2 linked regions of the Homo sapiens genome follow. The protein of the gene in region 1 purifies or fractionates together with the protein of each later gene. This does not show direct contact. Each region holds a gene or a part of one and is shown on either strand. Other genes may lie near its edges.

Evidence for each region. The genes of interacting proteins can lie anywhere in the genome.
Region 2: the proteins of CEP68 (region 1) and POC5 purify together in Homo sapiens (co-immunoprecipitation; one large-scale study listed by IntAct). This does not show direct contact.

Annotation. Positions count from the first base shown.
Region 1 is NC_000002.12:65,055,014-65,059,215, reverse strand, and holds the start of CEP68 (centrosomal protein of 68 kDa), read right to left. Parts: upstream 2,801-4,202; 5' UTR 2,688-2,800; intron 1-2,687. UniProt on the Homo sapiens protein: Involved in maintenance of centrosome cohesion, probably as part of a linker structure which prevents centrosome splitting. Required for localization of CDK5RAP2 to the centrosome during interphase. Contributes to CROCC/rootletin filament formation.
Region 2 is NC_000005.10:75,689,938-75,693,437, forward strand, and holds part of POC5 (centrosomal protein POC5), read right to left. Parts: intron 2,564-3,500; coding exon 2,459-2,563; intron 626-2,458; coding exon 446-625; intron 1-445. UniProt on the Homo sapiens protein: Essential for the assembly of the distal half of centrioles, required for centriole elongation. Acts as a negative regulator of centriole elongation.

The DNA of each region.
Region 1 (4,202 bases):
GTCTAAAGCCAACAGGAACATTTCTTGGGCTTTTCATGATGTTGGTGAACAACATTAAAGATAGGAGACAGTTTCTTCATGAGAACAGATTTAAGTTATAAGGAGAGTCCACCTCCATAAGCTCTGCTTCTTTCTGGATGGATCAACCAGGTAAAGATTTTTTGTCAGCCACATGAGGCCCCCATCTATTTAGCTCCTCTGATTTTACATGACCATTTCAGATAACAGACCCCGTTAAGAATGTATCAAGTACTACTGTAACTCTTGGCCAAATTGCTATTTGGCACCAAATCAATCTTTAGTTGGTGGTGAGACTCCAGACACATAAACAGATAATCTTCTACGGAATACTTTCACTGTGGAAAGAGAATCAGGAAAGGCTAAAGGGATGTTTAAAAATCAGACATCAGGCTGGGCATGGTGGCTCACGCCTGTAATCCCAGCACTTTGGGAGGCTGAAGTGGGTGGATCACCTGAGGTCAGGAGTTCAAGACCAGGCTGGACAACATGGCGAAACCCTGTCTCTACCAAAAATACAAAAATTAGCGGAACACGGTGGTGGGTGCCTGTAATCCTAGCTACTCGGAAGGCTGAGGTAGGAGAATTGCTTGAACCCGGGAGGAAGAGGTTGCAGTGAGCTGAGACTGTGCCATTGCACTCCAGCCTGGCCAAGAAGAGTGAAACTCCCTCTCAAAAAAAAAAAAAAAAAAAAAAAAAAGGAAAAAAATCAGCCATCGGATAAGGTGTCAGGCACCGTGGCTCATGCCAGTAATCGCTTGAGCCCAGGAGTTCAAGACAAGCCTGGGCAATATAGAGAGACGTCATCTCTACAACAAAATAGAAAATTAGCTGGGCCTGGTGATGTGCACCTGTGATCCCAGCTACTTGGGAGGCTGAGGTGAGAGGGACTCGACCCCAGGAGGTTGAGGCCACAGTGAGTTGAGATCATGCCACTGTACTCCAGCCTGGGTGATGGAGTGAGACCCTGTCTCAAAAAAAGGGATCGGATAAGGACCAAAAAACAGAGAGATCCTGAAGGGTCAAGTACTATACAGATATTTCATATTGGTGAGTGTATTCAAGTATCCATTTATTTTTCTCCTAACGACTGCTAACAGCTAACAGCTACTGATCATTTTCTTTGTGCCAGGAACTATATTAGGCACTATACATCAATATCTTATTTAATCCTAATAACTCACCACACAGGTACTACTATTATTCCCATTTTTAAGGATGAGGAAACCAAGGCACGGAGAAGTTAAATAACTTAATGACACGCCTGTAATCCCAGCACTCTGGGAGGCAGAGGCAGGAGGATTGCTTGAGCCCAGGAGTTCAAGACCAGCCTGGACAACATGGCAAGACCCCCATCACCATTAAAAAAAAAATTAATCAGAGTTAGTAACATGGCAGAGCTAAAGCCTGTTTGACTTAGAGAGCCTGAGCTTAGCTGCCTTCCTAACCTGTAAGAATAACTCGCTCAAGAAGTTAAATAAATGTTTCTGTTGTGTCACCTTTAGACTACCACGCTGATTTTGTTTCCTTTTGGCTTCCTTCCATCATTGAGTGCCTTTTATGTTCCAAGCATTGTGCTAGGGGCTGGGGAAACCACAATACAGTGTGATGAGTAAAAACAGAGGCTGCAGAAGGTAGCCCAAAAAAGGGAGGAGTTATCAGTCGCAGGGTGGGGAAGTGCTTTAAAAAGCTTTGCGCAAAAGAGGTTAAACTGAATTCCTTGGGTTTTTTGTTGTTGTTGTTTTCTAAGTGGGCCAGAATTGACTCAACAGAGGGTGGGAAAGGGGAATGGAGGGAACAAAGTAAAAAGTGGTGACTTCTAGATCTTTCAACTAAACCCAAGGCAAACTGACCCAACAACCTTTGTTACACACTTTAACACAACACTCTTCATACCCTAGATCTGAGAACTGTTAGATTATTTACAAACGCTACCTCCCTTCGTGGTCCTGATGAATTCCCAGTGAGGTCCAATCTGCCCTGGCAGGCTTCCGCTCATTTTTGTTACAAACAATACACTAAACCCAACCTACTAATCATCAAGGGCCTGGAACAGGTTTTGGACATTCGTCCCCAGGCTGCTGAGAACTGTTCTAGTGATGACAGTTAGAAAGGGTAGCCCTCCGAGGCAAAAAAAATGAGACATCTTGATTTTTTCTCTCCGCATCTGGGCGCGGCGATAAGAAGACATCACTGGTCTCCATCTTTCCAGGGGGAAAGGCCCGAGCTGCATTAGCCCCGACTGGGGAGCTGGGTAAACAGCCCACGCCCGGGAGAGGCCTGAGGGAAAGTGACCTCCCCCGGGGCCCAGGCCGACCAGCGGCGCAGCTGCTCGGCCGCCAGATGCGCGGACTCGCGCACTCCCTCGCCGCGCCCGGGCATTCCCAAGCCCAGCCGCCCGCCTCGGCCCCGACCCCTCGGCCGCCACAGCACACGCCGTTCCGCTCGCAAGATGGAGGCGAAGGCACGAGGCGCCCCCGCCCCCCAGGGAGCCTTTGTGCCCTTGCCGGCGGGGACGCGAGGCCAGACGGCCCGCACCGCAAGGGCCCCGCAGGCACCGAAGAGACGCGGGGGAGGGGGCCGGGCGCGCGCGCGGATCTAGCCCGGGCCACCGCCCCCAGCGCCGCGGCACCCCCGACACCAGCACCCGCACGCGGGACACTGCCTACCTACCGCACCGCGAACGCTTCGCACGTCCGGAGCGGTCTCAGCAGCCCCATGCGCTGGCCCCGAGCTGGCGGACCCTGACTGCAACTGCGGCCCTCCAACCGCAGCCCAAAACGCGCAGGGCAGGACCGAGCGCCAACCACGCCCTTCGGCCGCGCTGACCACGCCCTTCTTCCCGCCCCTTCTCCCTCCGCGGGAGGGCTTTCGGCAATTTCGCGCAGCGAATCGCAGCTCTAAGTCCGCGGCTCCACCAATACGTGGACGCTCCTGCAAGATGAGCCCGCCCCCTACTTCGTCCTGGCCTATGGGAAGCCGGGACTTCTTCAGCGGCTGTCCTCCCTCGCTTTTGGAGCTCCGACCTCAGCTTCGCCTGCGAGCTGGGTTGTGTAAAGGCTGGTCATTTTGGGGCGCTTAGGGGTGGGTGCCGGGGGGCGCGCTTTCCCTCGTGAAGGTCGCTCCAGGAGTCATGCGTACATTCGTTCATTTTGCTCTGGACGCACTGATGTTCCCGGCTCGCCGCCGTGCCGCAGTCACGAGGCTCTCCGAACGCCTTTCACTGTGTTTCTGTTTACATTCGCGTCTGCAAGACCCGGCGGCGCGACCGAGGCCCGAACAGGTGCTGCGAGGCGGGGCGGGGAGCCAGTGCTGAGGGGAGCTCCCCAGGCCGGGTGGTTGAAGACAGCTTCTGGGGGGAGGTGGAGCTCTGGCTCGTGGAGAATGGGAAGGGTGTGGAAAATGAACTGGTAGCTACTTAGCCACTCTGAGCAGCCTGCTCTGATGGGAAATCGGTGATGGAGTCGGAGGGAAGTGGGAGGCAGCTTGTGGGAGGCCAGGGTGCTCACTCTCTCCCCTGCCAGCATGGGACCTAGTAACTTTCATACATCTCTATCTATCTATCTATTTTGCAAAGATGGGGTCTTGCTGTGTTGCCCAGGCTGGGCTTGAACTCCTGGACTCAGACGATCCTCCCGCCTCGGCCTCCCAAAGTGCTGGAATTACAGGTGTGAGCCACTGCATCCCATCCCCTAGGAGCTTAATGACACTGCCCTTTAGCTTTTACTGCTTAGCAGAATCCGGAGGCATAGAGGAACTACCACCAGGGTGGCGTGGGGAAGAGGCCCTCCCTTCTGATGATTTTCTCTCAGCAGCACTTTCAGCAATCTGGCTTCAACTGAATATCTCCCCAGTTCATAAAACAGGCGTCTGTAAATGTCAACCCCAGCTGGGTGCAGGGTACAAATTTTTTCCTACAGAGCTCTTGAGTCCCAGGTAGTTTAGGAGACAAGGACTTGTTTGGTTTTCCCAGACCTGTCAGGACAGCTCAGAGGTTTTGTCTAACCCAGGGGCCACAAACTTTGGACAACAGCAGCAGCTAGCCCACAGATGGTTTTATTTGGGCATCGCATAGCTTTTCTTTGTTTGTTTGCTTTTGTTTTTTAATAAGAATTTGAATCCCACCACCACCACTGGTCCATTAAGTAACAGCCAGCCTTCACACATTTGCTGCCTACCTGAAG
Region 2 (3,500 bases), on another chromosome or scaffold:
GTGCAACAGTGTGATATAGCTCACTGCAACTTCTGCCTCCCAGGTTCAAAAGATTATCCTGCCTCAGCCTCCCGAGTAGCGGGTATTATAGGCATGTGCCACCATACCCAGCTAATTTTTTTAGTAGAGACGGGGTTTCACCATGTTGACCAGGCTGGTCTCAAACTCCTGACTCAGGTGATCTGCCCGCCTCGGCCTCCCAAAGTGCTGGGTCTACAGGAGTGAGGCACCGCGCCCAACTAATAATTTCAATTTCTATACAACTCCTTATATCAACCATGTAAGAATATACAATAAACATTAAATTAACACAAGAATAAACGTTTTCATTTTTTTGTCTGCATTCTTGATTAAAGACCAAAAGAAGAAGTCTATTAATTAATAGTGAGTCTATCTATCTTTTTATTGTATTAGAAGAAAGTGAAAACCAGAAAAAGATGCTTACCATAGCAACTTTGGCTTCATAATCATTGGAAATCTGGATACAAACTTCTTCAGCTCTTGCTTGACAAGCTCTTTCTACCACATCTTTCCACTGCTTTTGCACTACGGAACGCCAGACTTTCCAGACTTTCTTCAGTAAAGTTCTCTGGTAGTACTGGTCAGCTAGTTTACCTTCATAAACCTAAATAAAAGTAAAATATAACTTCAAAAACACAGTTGATTGATAAATATATTGGTAGTAATAATAAACATAACATGGTGGTAAGTGTACATATACACATTATTTAATTCTATGTAATCATATTATTCTCATCTTGCATATAGGAGAACAGGCTTAGAGAGGTTAAGCAAGCTACGTAGTTCACATAAGTAGATGAGTAAAGCCAGACTTGCCTGACTCCAGAGACTGAGCTCTTATCCATTACATCATTGCTTTATGCAACTAATCAAGTTAGAGAAAAAGAATACAACCAAATGAAAGAAAATGAGCAAATCACCACTTGCCATCTTAGTTATGAATTTAGCAGGACCAGGAGAATAACAGAGTGGCTAGAAGGCAGGAAATGGTGGTGGCTGTGGCTTCAGATGACACTGCTTTCTCTTCAGTTTGATGGCCACCACAAGCAAGATTTAATTTATAAACCCTGCCATCATATATGGTGCCAATCCAAATAAAAACTTATGCTATTTTTCTTTTATCAATGAATTTAAATTCTTTTGAAGAAGTAGTTCCAATTCTCAATTTCTTCAGTTTGAAAAACTATCCAAAAGTGACAGTAGCCTCAACTATTCTGGCTAACATTTAAAAATAAATATGTATTCTCATTATTTCACTTGACAAGTTTCAAAGTAGAGTATAAATATTCATTTTAACCAGCTTACTTAATGTGGATTTAATCTACTGGGATTAATTAAAAAAATGAAAAATCCAGAAAGTATTCTTAAAGGAGAAATCTTATTCCAGGATAAAGTAGGTTGAGCATCTCTAATCCAAAAATCTGAAACTTTTTGAGTGTCAGCATGACACCACAAGTGAAAAATTCCACACAGAAGTACTTAACACAAACTTTGTTTCATGCATAAAATTATTAAAAATATTGTATACAATTACCTTAGGCTATATGTATAAGGTGAAATATGAAACATAAATGAATTTTGTGCATAAGGTGTGATATGAAACATAATCTAAAATCCAAAATTCTCCTGGTGCCAAACATTTTGGATAAGGGATACTCAACCTGTACTAGCTTTTTCCTTAAATACTAATCTCTTGGAAACTAAATACACAGAGATTATTCCATAGCTCACATGAATATACATGGAAAGCATATATATATATATTCATCTCCTATATTCATGTGTCTCTAAACTATGTCTTGTTGTGGGATATACTCATACTTTTCCACTTTTGATACAACAATTTAGTATTCTCTTTCAGTTCACTATTTACTGATATACCAACTCAGCTCTTACTTAAAATAAAAGATGTTCAAGTTTAAATGATATACTACAAGCTAAGGATAACTTTTAAAAAGCTGTACAGGTATGGCTTTCTCTGACTCTCACTCTAAGGCAAGTCTACATAACAAACATTTATACTGTGATTTAATGTATAAATATAGTAAAGCCTCTTTATGAATAAGTTGTATTCAGGCATTTTAAAAGTAGAAACAATATAGGAAGCATTTGATATGTTAAACATAACTTCTTTCTCCAATAACCACATCTGAGGGGGTTCTATTACCAGGGCCTTTACAATTTAGGAACAATCCTTATTAACCTACTATGAAGCAGGAAATGATGTATCTATTGTAATATATATATATTATATGTCAATAAGATCTAAACTGTATTTTTTCCAAACTACATCAAAATCAAATTCCTTTGAAATAAGAGGAACATTAAATCACAAATTCATTTTGACTTATTAGAAAACAACTATAATAAGTGATCCTGAGCACTTCTGAATTCAGAAGTCTAACATCCATCAGCTGTCTTCTGCTTTGACACTTACATCCTGTCTGGCTCTGACATGGCCGATTCGCCAGTGGAAGAATGTTCTCATCAACTCTATCTTTTCCTTTTGCTTGCCTATGGCATGAGACAAGCTAGAAATCACCTGTAAACAGCAATTAACCCAATTATTGTGATATTAAAATAACAGCAATTGGTAAAGTGATTTTCTCATATATCAAAAAATGCTAGAGAGGATAGGTATGGATCACTACTATATTCATTCAGTTAACCTCATTATTATCTTTAAAAAGATGGTAAAACTTTCTCACATGAATATACTAGATATCAACTAATGAAAGGGAACAAAAGAAGAAGGAAGTCTTCATTATGTGTATATGGTAATCACCAATAAAAAGTTTATGTATATGCAAATTAGCTACTGACATTCAATTCAGGTAAAACAATTATACATTTGAAAGTTCTCCTATATACACCATGTCTTTATTCACTAGATTTGAGGGCAGGGGCCAGAATATTTAGATATTTAAATATCTTTCTGGTCCCTACTACTATCTTGGATATAGAAGTTCCTCAACGACTGTCCAATGATTTTCTGGATTAAACAAACCTATAAAAGCAAATAATAGTTATATATGTAACTATTAATATGTTATAGTTATATATATAACTATATATTATATATGTTATATATACCTATTAATAACATGTTATACATATAACTATTAATAACATATATAACATATGTCATACATAAAATGTTATATATATAAGTAAATATATATAATTAATGTTATACATATAACATATTAATAACATTATATATAACTAATGTTATTAATGTTATATGTTGATGTACTTCTTCAGTGATATTATTACTCTTGTTCTTAAAAAAAAATTCAGAAGGCTTTAAAATCCTAAGATAATATTCTCTCTTATAAAAGAACTGAATAACTGAAATAAATTTCTAAAAATAGTCACATTAGAAAGAGATTTTGTAAATTGGGCACATTTACCAAGAGATATTTATAACTGCTCTTTAAATAATTTCCAGAGAGGAAAAGGGCATACATTCTAAGCTA